Homo sapiens: one gene and its partners. The protein of the gene in region 1 interacts with the protein of each later gene in a pairwise test. Each region holds a gene or a part of one and is shown on either strand. Other genes may lie near its edges. The genes, in order: DAB1, TOLLIP and ZNF488.

Region 1 (3,750 bases):
ATGTCTTTTCCTACTCACAGAATGAAGGTTCGTACTGAAAGCTGTCTTTCTTCACCAGGATGCAGAATAGCTAAAGGACTGTTTTGGCAACATTCGTGATCATAATGAATAATCAACCACTTATTTGTCTTGTAATTTCAAGTTAATTCATTTCACTGAGGCTTTTTTTCTCCCCAGTTAGATTTCTTCACCCATATCTAAAAAAAGTCAAAAGCAATACAAAAATTTGTACACCTATTAATTTTCAAACATGACAAAAAAAGGAAAGGGGGGAAAATGGCAGACCAGGCCCCATGGAGTGACAAAAAACACATCATCCTATGTGAAAAGGCATATGGATGACGATATTGTGGTCACAGAAGACCCTTTGCTTTTGCTTAAAGAAGTCAGTTCCAACCCTGTTGTAATCCTCTGATGCCTGTCACTCCAAATTTGGTGTCTCAACAGTGGTCAACAGGTAGAGAAATAAAAAGGGAATTAATAATTTTGCACACTGAGTCATCTTAAACCCAGCTATGAGGGCTCAAATATTTGTTGGGTAAGCATTTGCTTGATTTCTGATTTAATGTTGGGTGGATCTTTCTATACTTTTTTTGTGTGCTGCCATAGATATCTGCCATTGGTTGCCAAAAATGCTTAGTTCCCTCTTCTGAGCGAGTTCCATTGGGCAATCATGAATTTCTTGTGGGAAGAGGTGAAAGAATACAAGAGAGCCTGTCGTGATGCTGATGTCCATGCCAGTCTTGAGCACCCACCACGAGCTCGCATCGATGCTATTTCTTAGGTCTGTTGATCTGCGCGTACAGAGGCTCTGGCTCCTGTGGATAAAGGAACAAAGTGAGGCCTGCTCTTTACACTTGCATGGATTTTCTGAGACAGCTTTGGGAAAAGGGGTTTAGGATTAAAACAGAAAAGTGACAGTTTATGATGGATGACCTTAGGTTATTTTTGGAGTATTTGATCAGGGTGCATAACATTTTGGCAACATTTTTATTATCCAAAATAGCTATGCACTCAGTTCTGTCTTTCGTTTTCAAGTTGGAACTGATTGCCCTGTTAGGGAAGTAGCATGGTATAGTAGGGAGAGTTAGAAAAGCTGTGTCATGTGGACAAGATACTTATCCTGAGTCTTGGTTTCTCCAACCACAAAATGGGAATAGTACTGTTTATCCTACGGGGTTCTTGAGGGAATTAGAGATTACACATATAAAGTATCTAGCACAATGCTTGCTAGCAATACATCTTCAGAAATTGCTAACAATTACCATGAGACAAGTGGACATTTTTCCAACACAGTTTCATAAATGTCCACTTGAGAACCCTGAAATTCTATTTCAAATTGCTCTTCTACAAATAGTGATGCCTGGGTGCACTGTTGAGCCAGAGAAACAGCAAGTGTGTCTTTGTCTCTTAATCACAAACTTCTGGACTTGTTTCCATTCAGTCTGAGCCCTCCACTTTGGCCAGTCATTTGCCTGCACCCAGGGGGCTGTCCTGAAACACATACAGGGATTTTCAACCAGCATGTAATGCAGCAAACCTGCAATCCACACCTAGATAGGAAACAGCGTTCGGCCCTATTTAAACCCCGTCAGACTTCAGCTGATGTTGAGATGGCTCATTGTGCCTTGGCCAAGCAGATTTGATGGATACTGTGGTTTTAAGCATGCACAGGACCTTCTGTTAAAATTGACCTTTATGCTGTCACTCTTGGAGGTCTGTGCCAGAATTAAACGGGCACAATGAAATCCTAATTTTACCATATTTGATATATTAGCTTGTCCCCTGCCTTGTCATATAGGTTCTTATTATTTGCTTTTTTCTTGAAACTTCAAAATGAATTGGCATTCTGGGAGCCCCTACCATGTGTCTGGCACCATGCTAGGTATTTTCAAGTACATTGTCTTTTTATCTCATCACAACAGCCTTGTAAGGCAGATGCTTTATCTCTTTTGCAAGGGTGAAATTAAGCACAGAGAAGTTAGATAATTTGCCCATGGTCACACAGCTAGTAAGTCTAGAGACATGAGAACTGAAAACAGGGTCCAGGGGCCAGTGCTTTTTCTAATCTTTTACAACAGTGACCATGAGGAGGGAGAGACAGAGAGAGAGAGACCCCAATCTTTCCATCCATTGGTGCTTCAGAGTTTACAAAGCACCTCATGTCTTATTTATCTGCCTTATAGTCCTGAGGGTGGCTTTTATTTTTTGAGTCCTCCCTTTGCAGATAAAAACTGAAGTTCTGAAAGGTTGTGTGATCTCAAGGTCATTGTGCTGTCTCTTGTGTGTAGCATATCATATTGCTTGCTTTCTACTGTAAAGTGGAATGGCCTAGAAGATAAGGTTGTACTGGCCCATCATTGTACAGATGAGGAATCTGAAGTCCTGTGAAGACAGCTTTTGTTTCTTCAGAGTCACAGGGTTACTTAGTATCCATGCCAAGAGTAGACCCCAAGACTCCTGCCATCAGATCCAATTTCTGGTTCCTCTAGAACTTGTTATGTTTGTATTCTTCCAGTGGGAAGGAACTTCTTTCCTTGGAGGCACCCTATTATGCAGTGTAACAAAGTGCCAACTTGTCCCTCCATGCCTTCTGCCCGTAGACTTTCTACTGCCCTTGGAAATGTAAATAAGTACAATCCTTCGTCCAAATGTCTGATGACAGAAAAGTACGGAAGCCCATTCTTCCATGTCCTACTTCTAGGTTACCACTTGCCAGTTCCTTCTGCCTTTTTTTTTTTTTTTTTTTTTGAGATGGAGTCTCACTCTGTCGCCCAGGCTAGAGTGCAGTGGCGCGATGTCGGCTCACTGCAAGCTTGGCCTCCCAGGTTCACACCATTCTCCTGCCTCAGCCTCCCGTGTAGCTGGGACTACAGGTGCCCACCACCACGCCCGGCTAATTTTTTATATTTTTTAGTACAGACAGGGTTTCACTGTGTCAGCCAGGATGGTCTCAATTTCCTGACCTTGTGATCCGCCCACCTCGGCCTCCCAAAGTGCTGAGATTACAGGTGTGAGCCACCGCGCCAGGCCTCCTTCTGCCATTTTACAAATATGAACCTAGCACAGTAGGTCCTCAATGAGAGTCTGTTGAATTACTGAATGATTATAATGCTGTTTCTAGTTTCCTCACAGTTCTGATCCCTTTGTCCTAAATACACTCCAATTTGGCTTTATTCTCTCAAAATCAAATGTAGCAAAATCTATAGTAAGATTATGATTTATTAAACACCAAATCTATTCCTTTCCAGTCTCTTGAACTATTTCAAATACATGTTGTAAGGCTAAACATGTAACTTTATTGTGTGTTTGTGTTCTACAAGTGCAGTAGGTGGAGTCAAAAATAGTTAAGTACAACTACTGGGGAAAAATATTTCCTTTTGCCTGTGCTGGGCTTCAAGCACGCATATTAATGTTTCCTGGATAGATGTTCTCAGCTCATTCTTCTTTTTGGATGCCCCAAGAAGTCAGGCTGCCTTGATCTCACCCTACAATTTGCTCTATTCTAATTTTGGAAACTAATTTATCCAACTGAAAATGACACCTAAAAACAGAAGAAGACAGCAGGCTCAGACAGGGTAATTAATGCCACACTGCATTAAGTTTCTGCAGCTGAGATAAATATTCACACATCTCCTACTTGCCCGAATTTAGCTTCAAATACCCATCACAACAGCAGTAACGACTGCAGTCAACTCTCAATTATCCCCACTAATGAAGGGGAGCAGTGGTGTGGAAAACCCCCAGCAG
Region 2 (3,750 bases), on another chromosome or scaffold:
TCTTGTACATGGAAGCAAAATTCTAGAAAAATATCCATTATGTATCGGGAGTAATCATTTTTGTTTTCATATTTCCAAGCCTTTGAACCAGGGTAAAGCATATATTTTTATGTGACCATTGAAATAGTTCCTCCATCATCATATGGCAAAAATAAATTTTAGGATTAGCACTGAATTTAAAAAATAAATTCAAAATAGACATTTACTGAAGGACCGAGTGTCGTCACTGAAACGATAGGGTTTACTTCAGCACCTGGACTCTCTCCCCTGTGACTCGTGAAGCATGAACTGGTAGCACTCCCTCCTCGTTTGAAGGGCTTTGCTCTAAGTTGAGAAACGAGGGCATTGCAGCAGCAGGCAAGCCGCCTCTCCCTGGTAGGCGGGGCAGCAGGTTGCGTAACCAGTATTTGTACGGGGAGGACTGAAGCCTGGTCTCCGTCTCCTCTCTTGCTCTTCCTGTCTTCAGGTTAAATGGAATATTTTTCTGAAAAACCTTGAATTTTGTAGTGTTCAGTCTTATGACGAATTGAAAAGCTGGCACGAAGAGGTCCTGTGTGTCTCACCCATGTCCCCTGGCCGACGCTCCCCTCCCCGGGAACAGCTCTCACAGCTGTGGCGCTGAGCTGGGGGCATGACTGTTGGCTCCAGGTTTTATTTGGCTGTCCTGGTTTTTCGATGACTGTCCCCTGCTGTCCCAGCACCCTGCCTTGCGTTTAGCCATCATGTCTGCCATCTCCAATCTGGGACCGTCTCTCAGGCTTTCCTTGTGTTTTTGGGACCTTGACGGTTTGAGGACGACTGACTGGTCAGGGATTTTGTCAGATGTCTCTTAATTGGGGTGTGGGTTTTTGGGAAGAAAACCCAGATGTGAGGCGTGTGTCATCTCGGGGAGCTGGACGCGCACCTGCCCCGCCACATGGCGCTGGCTGCGGTCCCCGGGCTGCGTGGGGCTGATGAGCTCCATCCGCAGGGAGCTGCTTCTCCCCTTTTCGTGTTCTATCCACACGGTTTATGTTTAAAAACCCTCTTTTCCTATTTGCCATTTTATGGTTAAATCCTTGTTGAAAAATGACACTTGATCATTAGGCCTTTGGATATAATTTTATTTTCTCCCAGTAATGAGCAGTCCCACTGTCTTTAACGGACACCTAAAGAGTGCAGAGCAAGGAGATGGAGCGCTGGACGCCTTCAAATACCGGGACAACCAGGATCCAGAGCAGCGAGGGACCCACAGTGCTCCCTCAGAGGCCTCTGGACCCCACGCCCACACGTCCCTGTGACCACCCACACCCTCCCCCGACTGGCTTCTCCATGCTGCTGTCTCCGGGACATGAGTCGCCTGTCTGTCCCCCACGTGTGGCCAGGAGGGCATGAGCCACCTGTCTGTCCCCTACGTGTGCCCAGGAGGGCACGAGCCGCCTGTCTGTCTGCCATGTGTGCCCAGGAGATACGGTGCTTTTCCTGCCATGTCCTCAGAGCTGTGCATGTGGCACACAGGAAGCAGTTGTCACAAATAAACAGGAATTTGGCCTGTGTATGTTAGTCCTGAGAACTTGGTTAGCACGAGTCTGTTTCTGCAAGATAACCCGTTCCTGGTGAGCAGACAGAGCTAGTCATAGAGCCTGCTGGCATGGGCTGTGCCAGGGCCCTGTGGGGTTGGCAGGGAAGCACGTCCTGTGTGGCCAGGTGTCCCCCGGGGAGAGAGCTCTGGGCTGTGAATCCTTCTGGGAGGCAGGCGAAGGGCCCTGGCCTTCTGTACCCCAGTGTTTCCTGTGTGCCAACAGGAACAGGTGCTTAGCATCTCGTGCCATGGGGCCTCTCAGCGCCCTCCTGAGCCAGAGCTTGCTGTTGAGCTGTACAGCGCCTCGAGAGAGGCTGCCTGGGGGAGGCTGGCCTGGGACTCCTGGCATGGGCCCACTCCGCTCAGGCACCTCTGCACCCTCCTCGATTGTCCGTAAGGGCAGGGGGTCCCTCCGGGCCCTGGCCTATGCCACACCCTCCGGAGGTGAAGCCGGGGTGCTCTGCTTGTTCTCGCAGTACGGCTTCTCTCACAGGGCAAAGGTCACTCGTGACGTGTCCCAGTCAAAAACGGGGTAAAGTGTGGGGAAACGCACAAAGTGTGTTTTGCTTTTTAGAGAAGAGCGGTTGAGCACACGCCATGCTGGCTGCTCAGGTTGGGGTGCAGCCTGCAGAGAGCTTCCCGAACTTGGGGGTCCTGAGTCCGTAACTGCTCGAAGCGGTGCCTGGATCGTCCGGGTCCCTTCTGTTTACTCACATTGGTTGTGGAGCGCTGACTGGCTTGTGCGCTCCAGGCCTTAGATGGGGACACAGGTGAGGAGCTAGACCCTCTCGGGGTCCTTTGAAGTGCCAGGCGCCCAGAGCACAGCAGGTGCAGGGCTTAACTCAGAACCTCCTGGAGCCCTGCCTGGCACCGTGTCATTGGGAGTCCATGGCACAGGCAGGTACGGGTTTCTGGTGTGCATGGCAGAGGCGTTCTGGCGGCCTCAGCACGTGCACTTTGCCTAAGCTCACGTCCGACACACCGAGGGTTCCAGGTTCCACTCGGTATTTCCTGAAAACAACTGCCCAGGGCACTGGCGCTGACCGGGGCCCCTGCAGACGGCTGGGTCTCCACCCCACTCCACCAGCAACCAGGCCTCCACCCCACTCCACCAGCAACCAGGCCTCCACCCCACTCCACCAGCAACCAGGCCTCCACCCCACTCCACCAGCAACCAGGCCTCCACCCCACTCCACCAGCAACCAGGCCTCCACCCCACTCCACCAGCAACCAGGCCTCCACCCCACTCCACCAGCAACCAGGCCTCCACCCCACTCCACCAGCAACCAGGCCTCCACCCCACTCCTCCATCAACCAGGCCTCCACCCCACTCCACCAGCAACCAGGCCTCCACCCCACTCCACCAGCAACCAGGCCTCCACCCCACTCCTCCAGCAACCAGGCCTCCACCCCACTCCACCAGCAACCAGGCCTCCACCCCACTCCACCAGCAACCAGGCCTCCATCCCACTCCTCCAGCAACCAGGCCTCCACCAGCAACCAGGCCTCCACCCCACTCCACCAGCAACCAGGCCTCCACCCCACTCCTCCAGCAACCAGGCCTCCACCCCACTCCACCAGCAGCCAGACCCATGCTCAGGGCCTCATCAGCGACCTTTCACCTGTGGAGCATGGTTTACCCCAGGCCCCTTCGGCCGCTGCAGGTGTGCGGGTGGTTTCGGGATGGCATTGTCCTGCCTGGGCCCATCCTCTCTCTTCCCCTCAGAAGTGGCAGTGGTGGACAGAGGGTCGAGGAGACATAGGATGCAGAGTGGGGAGGTCTTTCGTGGTTGTTTGGAATCGATTTACTTCCTGCGTTCTTCTGGGATACTTTTGAATTTCAGCTGTTTCATGTGGAAACATTTGAAGTATATCAGCAGAGGGTTTTCCAAATCACTTTAGACCTGAGGCTCAGCTTTTGTCTCATTCGTTTGACCAAGTGACCTGCAGTTCAGTGGCCCTGCCTTTAGCTGTGGACAAGGAGAAAGAAGCCGTGGGCACACATGGTGCAAGGGAGACCCTTTAAAATGACCTGAAAACCCACCTGAGCAGGCTTTGAGGACAGGAACCCATTTTTAGCGGCAGAAACCTGCATTTGGGGATCTCCTGAGTGAGGGCTGCACCTGTACCGCTGGGGGCCAGGCCCCAGGCTGGACACCCTTGACCCCTCCGTTTAGAGATGAGGAAAC
Region 3 (3,750 bases), on another chromosome or scaffold:
TGTACCCTGTAAAGTCACAGGGCCAGAGCTGCCCAAGGCCGTGGGAGTCCACATCTTGCACCAGCATGACCTGGGTGTGAGACATGGAGTCAAAGGAGGTCATTTTGGAACTTTAAGGTTTAATGACTGCCCTATTGGGTTTCAAACTTGCATGGGGCCTGTAGTCCCTTTGTTTTGGTCAATTTCTCCCATTTGGAATGGGTGTATTTACACAATGCCTGTACTTGCATTATATCTAGGAAATAACTTTCTTTTGATTTTACAGGTTCATGGGTGGAAAGGACTTGCCTTGTCTCAGATGAGACTTTGAACTTGGACTTTTGGGTTAATGATGGAATTAGTTAAGACGTTGGCAGACTGTTCGAAAGGCATGATTGTGTTTTGAAATATGAGGACATGAGATTTGAGAAGGACCAGGGGTGGAATAATATGGCCTGCCTCTGTTTCCCCACCCAAATCTCATCTTGAATTATAGTCCTTATTGTAATGCCCATATGTAGGGGGAGGGACTTACTGGGAGGTGATTGAATCATGGCGGTGGTTGCCCTGTGCTGTTCTCATGATAGTGAGTGAGTTCTCAGGCAATCTAATGGGTTTGTGAGGGGCTTTTACCCCCTTCACTCTGCACTTCTCTCATTCTTCTCCTTCCAGCCACCCTGTGAAGAAGGACCTGTTTTGCTTCCACTTCCACCATGATTGTAAGTTTCCCGAGGCCTCTGCATCCATGCTGAACTGTGAGTCAATTAAACCTCTTTCCTTTATAAATTACCCAGTCTCAGGCAATTCTTTATAGCAGTGTGAGAATGGATTAATACAGTCTAAAATAGATCTTTCTTTATATAACTTAAAAATTACAAGTGATGAAAAGCATTTGAGTTGGTTGGTTGTCAGTTTTTTCCCCCTCTTTTGGAGCTGTATTTAGTATAATAGAATATCTTAAATTAGTGGTCTTTTATAATAAATGAAATTGGGTGTACTTCGCCCCAGCATATTAGGGTTCCCTTGCTTCATGCCTTCCATGACAGTTGGTATTATTATATTTTAACATTTATGCCTAATGATTAAACATCTCCTTGTGGTCTTAATTTGCATTTTCTAATTACTCTAGAGACTTCGTCCTTTCACATGATTTTGGTCGTTAGTGGTTCCTCTTTGAAGTGCCTATTCATGTCTGTGTCCATTCGTTGCTTTGGGTGTTCCTCTCTTTCACACTAATTCATTAAAAGTATATATCCTGGATACTAATCCTTTATCAATTGCTGCAAGTATCTTCTTTCAGTGTGTGGCTTGCTTTTTCACTCCGTTTGTTGTTTTTTAATCAAAGTATAAGTTCTTAATTTTAACGCACTTTAACTGTCATTTTCCACCATGGCCCGAGTCGCGGAGTCCGCCTTCCTGGCAGAGCGTTGCGTGGTCACAGCTGAGGTCTGGGGAGCAGAGGCGGCGGGCGCTCCCGGGGGGAGCTGGGCGATTCCGGCGGGGGGAGGTGCCGATCGAGCGGCCGCCAGGCTGCTGGGGGAAGGAGGGCCAGGAGGCCGTGGGGGTCCTCGGCGCAGACTGGAGCCGCAGGCACCGCGCGCAGCCCTCGCCCGCATCGCCGAGGCCCCGCGGGCCCAGGAGCGAGAGGTCGGGCGCCCAGGACCAGAGGGCGTAGGCGAGAGCAGGCACCGCCTCCAAAGAACGCCCTCGCCCTCCCGCAGGCGATGGCGCCCGGCCCTGACCAAGCCAGCTGGGGGCATCTCCGCGGAGCTGAGCCGGGGAAGGGCCGGGCAGCCCAGAGGGTCAGAAGGGGGTTTTCTCCCGGGGTTGTGAGTTCTTTGGCCAGCGGCACCCTCCCCTGCCGGGGCCGCCCACCCGCAAGCCCCGCCCCGAAGGCTGGAGCTTCCCTGGGGGTGGGCGACGCCGAGACCACGCCCCGAAGGCGGGAGCGGCTTGGGGGCGGGATCTGGCCGCCCTCAGGGCTCCGGCGCCAAGTTCAGAGCCACGCGCAGTGCTCTTGGCCGGGAGGAGGCTGTGCTGCACCAGCACCTCTTGCTCCACATCTCCAGAGAGCCCAGGTGAGGCGCACCCTCCTGTCTGCAGGGACAGAGCCGCGAGCGGGCGCGGGCGGCGGGGTCCATCTCACTTCCACATCAGCCTTTCCCCAGGACAGGGTTGTTGAGTCCTGCCTTTGACTGTGGGGTCCTTTCCTTCCCAATGTCGCCAGCTTCCTCTCTCTCCCACGTCGTCTCCGAGTCCCATCCCCGTTTCTGTTCCCTTTCTCTTCTCTCACTTTTTCTCCTCTATCTCTTCTTTATTGTCTTCCTGTTTTCATTTTCTTCTGTGTCAGTCTCTCTCCCTCTCTCTTTTCCTCTCTTTGTTTATTCTTCTCCCCTACCTTCTCCCTCTCCCCCCTGTTTTTTCAGCACTCAAGAATTCTGCCTATGAATTTTTCTCCTAGGGTGACTTTCAGGCTGCAGTTGTTTTCCTCCCTCCCACTGTCTCTCCCGGGGTTTATCCTGTGTTGCTGTTATTCTCAGCCCGGGCTTGCGCTGGGCAGTAGGGTAAGAACCATGCATCAGCCCCAGATCCTTTCTCCAACAGATTATATCCAAAGATCTGGACATGTATCCTGTTCACTGCCTTTCCTGGGAAACAAAACAATACCAAATGATCACATTATAATGAGTTTTTAGAATGAGCTAAAAGAACATACCTGGTTTTAGAGACAAGGGGTTGATTGAATCCTTTCCTTGACATTTTGCCTTTACTAATAGACACAGACAGCACAGCAGGAAGCTAAGCCTTGCAGAAGCATTTAGGGGGCGTTCCCACCCACACCTGCCTTCTGGGCAGGCTATGCAATGCCAGGTGCAGGGGAGGGAGGGGACAGGATTCAGAGCAGGGTTGTAGGAAGACAGTGGGAGGCCAGGGCTTTGAAACATTTGAGGGAGCCTGGAAATAAGAAATTAACAGTAAATTTCTAAAATATGTAGTTGCCAATGCCACTGATGTACAGAAATGAAATTAATTACTCCTGAGGGAGACATTAGACATTTTATGGCAGTAATTATGGCATTTGAAAGTAATGATTTTATGTACATTAGATAGGAGGGCCAAGGGGAAAATATTTCCTGTTAGTATCAAAGATTGTCGTAGATGCATAAGGGACGAACTCTAGAAAATCAAGTCTCATTCTTTTTGAGGGATAAAATAGAACTATATCGAGGCAATTTTTTGTTTCTTGGTTACAATGTAATCTTATCAGAGATATGTGATTTAGTTTTTAATGATATTTTATGACACATACATATTTATATGTTCAAACACACACAAATACATAATATATATGCACTAAGTTATAAAAGAGCCCTTGTTTGTTTGTAAAGATCTTAATTACCAATAAAGGTTGAAGCTTTCACTTCTTGGAAATAAGTTAACATGATATTGTAGTTTATTATGACCTTTAATGAAAATTCAACTAATTTACTTTTGATTGATACAGAAATGGAAATTTGGCCGTAGATAAATCACACAGAATTAAACAGAAATTAAGTATGATGAAGGTGCATTGCAGTGTGTTCAGTGAAAGAATTTGCATATGCTAGATATTTTGGACAAATTCATAGGTATGTGCATGGAACTGTGATTTGTGAGGCTTTTTTCTGGTTTAAAAAGTTAAATTGCCTTTATATCTAATCCCTGATCCCCAACATATGCGGATTCTGGGGGGAGGGATAAAAGACTTTGCAAATGATTTAGAATCATCGT

What was found.
Region 2: the proteins of DAB1 (region 1) and TOLLIP interact in binary tests that used the Homo sapiens proteins (3 or more experiments, as listed by UniProt).
Region 3: the proteins of DAB1 (region 1) and ZNF488 interact in binary tests that used the Homo sapiens proteins (3 or more experiments, as listed by UniProt).

Annotation. Positions count from the first base shown.
Region 1 is NC_000001.11:56,997,311-57,001,060, forward strand, and holds part of DAB1 (disabled homolog 1), read right to left. Parts: intron 838-3,750; exon of another isoform or gene 819-837; 3' UTR 1-818. UniProt on the Homo sapiens protein: Signaling adapter of the reelin-mediated signaling pathway, which regulates the migration and differentiation of postmitotic neurons during brain development.
Region 2 is NC_000011.10:1,295,931-1,299,680, reverse strand, and holds part of TOLLIP (toll-interacting protein), read left to right. Parts: intron 1-1,116; exon of another isoform or gene 1,117-3,153; coding exon of another isoform or gene 3,154-3,225; intron 3,226-3,750. UniProt on the Homo sapiens protein: Component of the signaling pathway of IL-1 and Toll-like receptors. Inhibits cell activation by microbial products. Recruits IRAK1 to the IL-1 receptor complex. Inhibits IRAK1 phosphorylation and kinase activity.
Region 3 is NC_000010.11:47,382,527-47,386,276, reverse strand, and holds the start of ZNF488 (zinc finger protein 488), read left to right. Parts: upstream 1-1,983; 5' UTR 1,984-2,057; intron 2,058-2,440; exon of another isoform or gene 2,441-2,543; intron 2,544-3,750. UniProt on the Homo sapiens protein: Transcriptional repressor. Plays a role in oligodendrocyte differentiation, together with OLIG2. Mediates Notch signaling-activated formation of oligodendrocyte precursors.